2 separate regions of the Homo sapiens genome follow, and region 1 is linked to region 2. The links come from fine-mapping of genetic effects on plasma protein levels. A gene starts in region 2. The other region holds a variant in brackets. All regions are shown on one strand. Distances are between the middles of the regions.

Region 1 (5,385 bases), 67 kb before region 2:
AAATTTTTTTTTTTTGAGTCTGGCTCTGTTGCCCAGGCTGGAGTACAGTGGCACAATCTCAGCTCACTGCAACCTCCGCCTCCCAGGTTCAAGCTATTTTCCTGCCTCAGCCTCCCGAGTAGCTGGGATTACAGGTGCCCGCCACCACACCTGACTAATTTTTTGTATTTTTAGTAGCAATGGGGTTTCACCAAGTTGGCCAGGCTGGTCTCGAACTCCTGACCTCAAGTCATTCCCCTGCCTTGGCCTCCCAAAGTGCTGGGATTACAACATGAGCCACTGTGCCCAGCTCATCTCACGTAACTTCTAGATGACCCACTTCCATCTTTTCTTCCCAAATTTTGGCATAAACTGTTTGAAAAGAGCCTTCTTTACAGGACACTTTCATCTAACCAGCAAAACCTGTTATTTTCATGACAGACATCATTAGTTGCAAATCCACAGCTGTGTTCCAGGTCTTTCCTGCTAGAGAGTGGCTAGCTTGTCTATATATACTTTGTGGTGGGCAGAAGCTGAAGATAGGAAGTCAGTTATGATACAGTAATCTAGGTATGGCATAAGTATGGCTTGGTCCAGGAAAGGAGCAGTGGAGGTGTGAAAAGTGGTCATATTCTAGATGTAACTTGATGGTAGAGCAGAAGGGATTTGCTGATGGACTGAATATGAGAGAAAAAGAGGAATCAAGGATGGCATTGAAATTTTGGCCTAAGCCACAGGATAGAGAGAGTTCTAACTGTCAGAAATGGGGAGAATTGTGGAAGGAGAGGGTTTTGCGGGAAAATTTTAAAAATAAATTTCAGTCATACCATATCCAAGAAGCTTATTCTGAGTCTGCAGTTCAGCATAAAGGTTAGAAACGCATTGGGAAGTTGTCAGAATAGAAATGGCTTTTAAAGTCATGGGGCTTAGCTGGGCGCAGTGACTCATGCTTGTAGTCCCAGCACCTAGGGAGATCAAGGCTGGCAGATCGCCTGAGTCCAGGAGTTCAAGAGCAGCCTGGGTAACATAGCAAAACCTTATCTCTATAAAAAAAATACAAAAATTAGCCAGGCATGGTGGTACATGCCTGTAGTCCCAGCTACTTGGGAAGCTGAGGTAAGAGGATCCTTTGAGTCCGGAATGCAGAGGTTGCAGAGAGCCAAGATTGCGCTATTGCACTCCAGCCTGGCAACAGAGCAAGACCCTGTCTTAAATAAATGAATAAATAAATAACATGGGACTAAATGAGATCCTCTAAAAAGTGAGTGTACACAAAGAAGCAGAGCAAGGTCTAAGTCTTAGGAGGTCAAGGAAAAAAGAACAAAGGCGCTTAAGAAGGAGCAGCCAAGTGCAGCAGAAGTGGAAAAGTGCTATATTCTGGTGTGTCAAAGAAAGACAGAACCACCCATTCTGCTGATATGAGGAAGGTGAGGGCCGGATATTGACTACTAGATTTAGTAACTTGGGGGTTATTGGTGAACTTCACAAGAGTCTCATTGAAGTACTAGGGAGAAAACACAGTTGTAGTCAGAGGAAGAAAAGAATTAGAAATGGCGATTACAGGCAGGACGCAGTGGCTCATGCCTGTAATTCTAGCACTTTGGGAGGCCAAGGCGGGCAGATCACACGGTCAGGAGTTCGAGACCAGCCTGGCCAATATGGTGAAATCCTGTCTCTACTAAAAATACAAAAAAATTACCTGGGCGTGGTGGCAGGTGCCTGTAATCCCAGCTACTCGGGAGGCTGAGGCAGGAGAATTGCTTGAACCTAGGAGGTGGAGGTTGCAGTGAGCTGAGATCGTGCCACTGCACTCCAGCCTGGGCAACAGAGCAACAGTCTGTCTAAGAAAAAAGAAAAGAAAAGAAATGCAATTACAGTGAATATCAAAATAAATTATGAAAATATAAAATATACTATATTTGTGCTTATTCTTGTCTGAATGATATATTAATAAATACCTTGGAATGGGAGATTCTGGGTGGCCAAGACTGGCTTTCTTTTCTTTTCTTTTTTCAGAGACAGAGTCTCATTCTGTCACCCAGGTGGGGGTAGCATGATCATAGCTCACTGTACCCTCGAACTCTTGGGCTTAAGCAATCCTCCTACTTCAGCCTCCTGAGTAGCTAGGAATACAGGTGTACACAACTGTGACTGGCTAATTTTTGTTATTGTTATTATAGAGATGGGGTCTCCCTGTGTTGCCCAGGCTGGTCTTGAATTCTTGGGCTCAAGTGATCCTCCTGCTTTGGCCTCCCAAAGTGCTGGAATTACAGTCATGAGCCACCGCACCCAGCCCTACACTATATTTTCTATATAGAACTTCCCAGAACAATAATCAGGATAGGCAGTCAGATCTCAGATCTCTTCTAGAAACACCAAATGGTTTCTTCTATATATATGAGCATCATGGAAAAACATGGTAGTATTGATGAGATGAGAATGCAAAATTTGTGGGGTTTAACGTACCACATTAACTTAGAATGCTTGGAAACTACAATATTACACAATGCTTTGTGTTATTTTAAATAACAAAAATCAATAAAATATTAATGATAAACAGCAATTTCTATTTTTTAGTATTTTCCAATGTCTCACTAATGGCCTCAGCAGTGTT[G/A]TGATGAAAATAAAAGCCACGTGGTGAAAACAGTTCCAGCCATAATGGTTAATTTTTGTCCAGGATGAAAATAAAAGCCACATGGTGAAGCAATTCCATCCATAATGATTAATCTATGGCTAGTGCCAATGTCGCGGGAATCAGGCGGATGAGAGAGACTTCGGGGTAAAGCAGGAGGATCTTTATTGAGTGTACTCAGACTTACATCTGGAAAACTGGGCCTAGAACAAAGACAGCACTTGACTTTTATACACACTTCAAAAAGGGAGTGGGCTAGCTTGAAGCAGGCTTACAGTTACAGTGGTGTGAAAGCAAGGATACAGAGGCAGAGCAATTAATCAAATTGTGACAGGTTCATAACTCAGGATTACACATGACCGTTGCTGTGCAACCCAGATGTCAGTTATCTAGGTTTTCCTTTAGTGCCTAGCACAGCTTATTCCATGACCTTCACTATGGCGTCCAGGTGGCTGTATCTCAGGCCTGCTCAGACAGTTTATGACCTTCACTCCACTACTTAGATAAAACAGAATGCTTGAAGTTGCTAGTTACAGAGAACAGAAATCTATAAACTCATACTATAAGAGAAAGGAAAATTTGTTTTTCTTCTCCTTATGTTGAGGGAGTGCTGGGAGAGTCTCCAGAGCACATTCCTTTGTGTCCTAGCTTCTTAGATAGTGTTTATCAAGACTCTTTTTCCTGGGTCTGGGCCTTGCCTGCTACTGCCTTTGGGATGAGTCAGCCTAATACAGGAAAGCTTACTTCTTTCTCTTTTTAATTTTATTTTTCTTTATTTCTTTAATTTCCCACCGCACCAAGGCTAGAAGTTTCATCTCTAAAAGGGAACTTAAGTTAAAGAGAAATAAGTACTAGGTTCCAGCCTTTGGCTAGAAAGTCAATGGCATTAATAGCTTTCAAGCTGGGACAAAGTGAAGGGCAAGAGATGGCTGCACCAGATCTATGAGCATGGGCTTGTTCCATAATATGTTGAAGACAATGATCCTCTGCTTGGGTATGGTGGGGGGTCTACCATCAAGAAAATTTGATCAAAAAGATATTTTCAAGGTATCTTTGTATGCACAATGTAAGATTGCTTGGCACACAGGAGGGATGGAAAGAACCCACTTAGTTGAGACTGCAGGGTTTTAAGCCATCAGGACAGAGTCCGTATGTAGTTCTTCTAATTAGGGTTCCTGGCTACTTCCAAACCTCTGGTTGATTTTCAGCTTCGTATTTCCTATCACGTACTGTACACCTTCACTGGGCTTCCTTAGACATCACAACTTCAAAATATCCCTAACTGTCTAAATCTGATTCCATTCCTCTACTTCCTTCCTTTCTGTACTCAGTGGCAACACCAATCACCTCACCATCTAAGAGACTGGGAATTATCCTAGTCTCAAATCCCTCTCCCTAGTACTGTAATCTATTTGTCCCCAAATGCCATCTATTTCACTCAACATATCTAGAGTCAGTGCCATCCTTTTTATCCCTGCTTTAGTTTCTACCTTCATTATTTTTCATTTGATTACTCCAAGAGTGTCTTAACCATCTTCCATACCCTCTCTCACCCACTTCCAATACATCTTCCTTGCTGTCTCCAGCTTGAACTTCCTAGAATCCTTTAATGGTCCAAACTCTTTGGTATGAGGCTCTCCCTGGTATGGCCTTTCCCCCTCTCCAGCTCCTTAGCTGCACCCTGGGCTCCAGTCACTATGAACTGCTCTCCATCCTTGTGTGTGGTTAGCTCCTCACACTGCAGGGCCTTTGCATTTGTATCTGCCTGGAAAGTTCTTCCATAATTCAGACTAAGCTCACCTCTGCAGAAGCCCTCTTTAATATGTCAGGCTGGTTTCTAGATCTCCCTTTAGTTTTCCTTACCATTGTACCTGGCAAGGTGCAGCCGCATAATTTATTTTCCCATTTCTCTTGTAAGACAGAGAGCTCTGAAACCAGGGTTAAATATAAGACGATGGCAGAGCTCCACATCCAATGAGTTGTGTCCCTGGCCACCTTCAGGCGAGCTCACAGAAGCAGCAATGTCCAGTGCCCAGGCTCTGCAGTACAAGCTGTACGTGGAGACTGGGACCCATGCTAGTGGCCATGGTAGTCTCTGATGGAGCAGTCCTGCAGTGTGGTCTGTGAGCGTTATTTCCAGATGTGTAGACTCCAATTCTCTGGCTCTTTTGGAAATTCTGTGAACTGCATAATATCTTTGAATAAATCTATTTTTTCATTAAACCAGTTAGATTGGCTTCTGTAGTCTGGAATTAGGAGCGCTGAGACAGACCTCTAAACTAGGAGAAGCTTGGAGTCAGGTCATCTCACTCCTGCTGTTCCTGGTCTCTGTCACATAGAGTCGCTTCAGAGGGCTGACTTTCACCCTTCAAGGCTTGACCCTGGTCTACTTTTCTGTGAAGCTGCCAGATGCTAGGTCACTGTGCAGACTGGCTTGGCCCTTTTGGGGGCCCCCTTCCTAGATTGGCTGAGGATGCCCTATATGCTGGGTTTCCCACCTTGTAGCACTGGAGTACTTTTCTTTTTTTTTTTTTTTTTTTTAAGACGAGGTCTTGATCTGTCACCCAGGCTGGAGTGCAGTGCTGCAATCACAGCTCACTGCATCCTCAACCTCCTGGGCTCAAATGATCCTCCCACCTCAGCCTTCCAAGTAGCAGGGGCTGCAGATGTGCACCACCACTCCCAGCTTTTTTTGTGTGTGATAGAGATGGGGTCTTGCTATGTTGCCCAGGCTGGTCTCAAACTTCTGACCTCAAATGATCCACCAACTTTGG
Region 2 (5,385 bases):
GTATTTTTAGAAGAAAATTGCTTTAACATTTGCAAACTAAGGTAATGAGAATACAGTGAATTTCAAAATGTCTTTTTAATGACAATGTGTGAACTTGTTTTAATAAACCAAAATTTGTTGTTATTGTGTTAAGGCTATTTTATGTACTCAGATATCCTTCAAGACCACTGCCAAATTAGGGAGGGTATGGGGCAAGGACACAAAGGACAGACACGCAAAATGCTACTAAGCTTTCATACCATTTTTAGTTGCCTGTTCCTGCATTCAACATTTTCTTAGGTGCTATAAACCTTTGACTGTTTTCCAGAGTTCTAAATAAAGTTGGTTCTGACAGCTTCCCTTTGGTTTCTGTAGAAATGGATTTTTGGTTTTTGGTTTTGGTGGATCTGCCTACTCTGCCATTTCCGCTGCCATCACTTGCACTGCACACCCTCCTGTGTGCCACCCTTGTTTCCAGGATGTTGTCATTCTGCTTAACATTACCCCAGTTCTTTCTCTCTAAAATGCCACCCATATGTGCCTGAGTTTGTAATAAAATTTTAGGGTAAAATAAAATTTAGGGTATCAGTTGGTGATTACGTCACAGCACAATTATGGTAGGTAATCATGTTGACTGAAATATTTGGCTTCTCTGTTTTTTTTTTTTTTTTTTTTTTTTTTTTGAGACAGGATCTTGCTGTGTCACCCAGGCTGGAATACAGTGGCATGATCAGAGCTCCCCGCAGCCTCAAACTCCTGGGCTCAAGCAATCCTCTTGCCTCAGCCTCCCAAAGTACTGGGATTACATGCGTGAACCCCCACACCTAGTCAGCTTCCTTGTTGTTGAACATCCTCTGGTTATTCCCCCCATTAGAAGGCCCCAGCAGCCACTCCCACTGTGCTATGGGTTTCTTTTCCATCTTTTCTGAATCCCCTAGTTTCCTTGTCTGAGTAGGTTCAGTAAAACCGAAAACAGAAAATAGAATCACCAGTAATCTTATTAGCCAATGATAGCAACTATTAACTGTTTGATACATACACTGTAAGATCTTTTAGTCATATATATAAGTAGGTATAAGTATGCATTTATATATATGCATATAAACACACATACATATGTGTGTGTGTGTTTTTCTTCAATAAAAATAAAATTGTAGTAAGGACTTTTTATTTAGATAAATATGTCATTTCAATGGCTATGTAATAGTTCAATTTTGGATATACAATAATTTAACCAGTGTCTTATTAATAAGCATTTAGTTATTTCCATTTATTCTCTATTATAAACATTGCAATGATGGCAACTATTTTAGAAGTTACAAGAATCTTAAAGTGTGTTTTCTTAAGTAGTTTTCTTTAAATATTTTCTTCTACAAGCTGGCACTAAGACAAGATAGTTTTGGATTGCCACCAAAGTTGGCAATCATCAATAAGTATCCAAAATATTTTAAACATTTTTCACCTTAATAGATGACACTCTAACTTCAATAAAATATGTCATTTCAGTTTCGAGTTCCTTTGTAGCCCACAAAGCCTTCATTCTGATCAAATGGATTCATTTATTTGGAGGGGCCTAGTGCATTGCTGCCTTCCTATGGTAGCACTTGCTGCTTTTCCTGGCTAAAGAAGCTGGAAATCACTCCTCTTTCTCACCACTGATCACATGTAATACAGAATTAAACGTTCAGCTCAAATCCTACTTGATCTATAATCTCTTCATGACCTCTCAGCATGAAGTGATTTGTCCTCTCATTGAAGTCCTTTACCACATATTTGTATCACTTTTGACAATTAAATATATACTGTCTTGTAACTTGCACTTTTGTGTTTTCAGATGTTTCAAATTTGCTTATTATTTCCCCTTTCTATAACTATAGAGCGTACTAAGAGGCTGTTGAAGGAAGAGATCAGTCTCACTGTCTTCGTAGCACTGTACCTTACACACAGGAGGAGCCTGGTAAATATTTTTGATTTACTACAATTACAGTAAATCACAGCCTTGTATTAGTAAAATTCTTGTTCAGTTCAATGCCTCTGCATATATAAGCACATAAAAAGAACTATTTTTAAAAAATCACTTTTATCAAGATATTAACATAAAACATTTGTTGCTGACTATAGAGTGGCATTGTTGTAACTGAACTATGTAATATTTAAATCAAAATTATATATTTAAGATTATTTTCTATGTTTTTACAACCTTTAAATTATCAATTAAAATTGTTTGCATAAAGGTTGAATTACTTACCTTGCAAAACCTTAAGTGGAAGCACAGAAATAACAGGAAAACATGAAGAAGCTTCATGTTGGAGGTGTTCGGGGTCTTTGTCTCTGCTGAGAACTCTTTTCCACTCCAGGTATTCTTTTGAAATTTAATTTTTAACCTCTGAAAAAATGTTTCAAAAGAACAAACCTCCTAAAGAGCTTTGTACTTTTGAACTCTGAAAGAATTTGGCTGAAATCCAGAGAGATTTACCGTAACTGAAACCAAAAAATGGCCTTCCCATTAAAGAGCTGAGGGAGGTGACCAATAGGAACTTGTTTCCACCAGAAGAGACTGATTTCCTCCCACCCTGTTAATTGCAATGACTCAATTCTGTATTCCAGGGAAGACAGAAATTATATTGGAAGCAATTTTTTGGTTTTTTTTTTGTACAGTAAAAATATAATTTTTTAAACTTAAGGTTGAAGACTAGGAGACAGTAAGAATAAAAGTAGACCATATAGTGAAGGCTGCAAAATACATTTAAAACTCTAGAAACCAGCTTCTTTACCATGCATTTGTTGTGCTGTGATCAAATTGTATTTTTGGAGTACAAGAAATTTTAAAAACAAGTATTCTTGTGCCAGTACCAACTATCATGCAGGGTTTATCTATTTATGAAATAAATCTGTGATAGCAGAAATGCTGACACAGTTGGGTTCATCAGAAGCAGACTTGAGACAGTGAGTGTGGGGCACAAGTGTTTGTTAGGGATCGATATCCATACAAGGAAGGGAGGGGAAGCAGGGGTGAACAGAGGTAGAAGTTGAACTGGAGTGAGTGTGACCTGTCACAGTGCCCCTGATTTCAGTATAAATGGCTGGGCCATTATATTCTGCCTTGCTTGGTCCCCTACTATATATTGCCCAGGAAGGGCATACACTTAGGTGAGACAGTTTTCTGTAGCTAAGGCAGACACAGAAGGATCTGACAGTTATGTGCTATCAGGAGGAGGTATCTTCTGACTACACTCTTTACAGCCAGGTAGCAAGACCTTCCTTGACAAGGGTTCTGGGAAACTCATCTCTGTGTCTTTCAGAGTACATACTTGCACCTCTTAGATCTATGTTCCATATACACTCCAGGAGTGGCTCCTTAAACATTTCAGTGGGTCCCTATTCTTGAGAGAAAACTTAGAAGAGGAAGTTAATGGGAAAAACTACAGCTCCTACCCTTGCAGTTGATCTTGGGGCTGTAGTTGAAACTTACCCTTGGCCCCCTTCCTATCCATTTTAGATTCCCTTTACCTTGACCTCCCACCTCTGCTGGTCTCGGTGACTTACTGGATGACATGTCCCACACTCTCTTTCAGGAGTGGTCTGAGCCCCTGGTTACCTTTTGTTTCTCAGGCAAAAGTTGCCATTTTTATCCCTACTGTCACAAGAGGCAGGCTGGACATGGTGGCTCACTCCTGTAATCCCAGCACTTTGGGAGGTCAAGGCAGGAGGATTGCTTGAGGCCAGGAGTTTGAGATGAGCCTGGGCAACACAGGGAGAGGTTGAGGCTGCAGTTAGCCATGATTGCACCACTGCACTCTAGCCTAAGTGACAAAGAGAGACCCTCTCTTAAAAAAGAAACCAAAAAAAGCAAAAAATAAGAGGTACCCCAGTAGGTTATGTGGGTTCTACACATCTTCCTCCCTGCCCACATTATAGTAATAGCAGCCCTACTTCCTCGGAATGATCAGGGCCAATTACCCTTGTGGATTCTGACTCTTTCTTGCTAGTTCCTAGACACAAAGAGCCCAGCGTACCCCAGGCAACAGCTCTGGTTTATAATTCCATGGGACTCTTGCTTGCCCCTGGTGAAAGTATAGTCCTTTGGAGACCAAGATAACGAACCCTGCAGAGTCTACAACTGTGGAGACAAGATGCACAAAGCCCCCAGTTGGTCAATGGTGGTGATGGTAAGTGTGGTAATTCTTGCCTTTATTCCTTGGTTCCCAGACCCAGGTATTCTTCCTATTGGGAACATAATGCTATATGAAAGTCTTTGATTGAATGTATATACTGCTTCCTGGAGGATAGCACCCCATTCTCACAAAGTTTTGCATTTAACTGGCACCTCAGCTCTGTCCTCAGCAGCCCATTATAACATTCTGTAAGTCCACCAGCTTCTGAGTGGTGTGGTATGTGATATGACCAGGGGATTGCATGATCACAGGCCCACTCCTGGGCCTGCTTTGCTGTAAAGTGGGCACCCTTGTCTGGCAGGATGTGATCTTTGCTAGATAATTAAGCACTCTATAATTCTCTGGATTATGGTGCTAATGGAGGCCCTGCAGGCAAGAAAGGCACACTCATACCTCAAATATGTCTATTCCTGTAAGAATAGACCACTGACCCTCCAAAGAGTGAAAGAATCAGATGTAATTAATTTGCCACTAAGTGACTAGTTGGTCTCCTTGAGGAATTGTGCCATCTTGTGGGGACAGTATTAGTGTCAGCTGCTGTCAGGTTGGGCATTTGTTAATGATGGGAGCTAGATAAGCCTCGGGGTCTGTGCTATTGGCCTCATGGGTGGCCTCTATCTCTGTTACCACGGTCACTTCATTCTTGTGCCCATCGTGCCAGCAGTGGGGTGGCTGATGACTGAGACTCAGTCATTTTGGCTCAATCGTTTTGTTGAGCCAAACTGGTTGAGCCATTTTGTTGGTTATTTAGTGCCTTTTCTTTGGTGGATGCTTTCTAGTAGGCATTAACATGTGATACAAAGATTTTTTTTCCTTTTTCTTTTTTCTCTCTCTCTTTTTTTTTTTTTTTTCTGAGACAGTGTCTCGCTCTGTCACCCAGGTTAGAGTGCAGTGGCGTGATCTCGGCTCACTGCAAGCTCCGACTCCCGGGTTCATGCCATTCTCCTGCCTCAGCCTCCTGAGTAGCTGGGACTACAGGCGCCCGCCATGACGCCCGGCTAATGTTTTGTATTTTTAGTAGAGATGAGGTTTCACTGTGTTAGCCAGGATGGTCTTGATCTCCTGACCTTGTGATCTACCTGCCTCGGCCTCCCAAAGTGCTGGGATTACAGGCGTGAGCCACCGTGCCTGGCCATGATACAAAGATTTGTATACTTCATGCCCAGTCCTGTATGTACACATATCCATTCTAGATTCTCTTCACTCCGACCTCCCACCTCTGCTGATCTCA

Evidence for each region. PIP is the chance, under the fine-mapping model, that this variant and not a neighbour inherited with it causes the effect. Sun 2018 read protein levels with aptamers (SomaScan).
Region 1: its variant is fine-mapped to the plasma level of the CFI protein (Sun 2018, PIP 0.95).

Annotation. Positions count from the first base shown.
Region 1 is chr4:109,732,981-109,738,365 of GRCh38, forward strand. It overlaps a transcript of CFI not described here. Among named protein-coding and RNA genes, the nearest start is that of PLA2G12A, 5.6 kb to the left of the region's middle. The variant G/A (reference allele first, on the strand shown) is at 2,594.
Region 2 is chr4:109,799,688-109,805,072 of GRCh38, forward strand. It overlaps CFI (complement factor I), which reads right to left and starts at 2,312. Exons shown (of 13, transcript NM_000204.5): 1 at 2,228-2,312. The coding sequence starts at 2,284. LOC124900757 (a long non-coding RNA gene) reads left to right here and starts at 3,985. Exons shown (of 2, transcript XR_007058226.1): 1 at 3,985-4,148.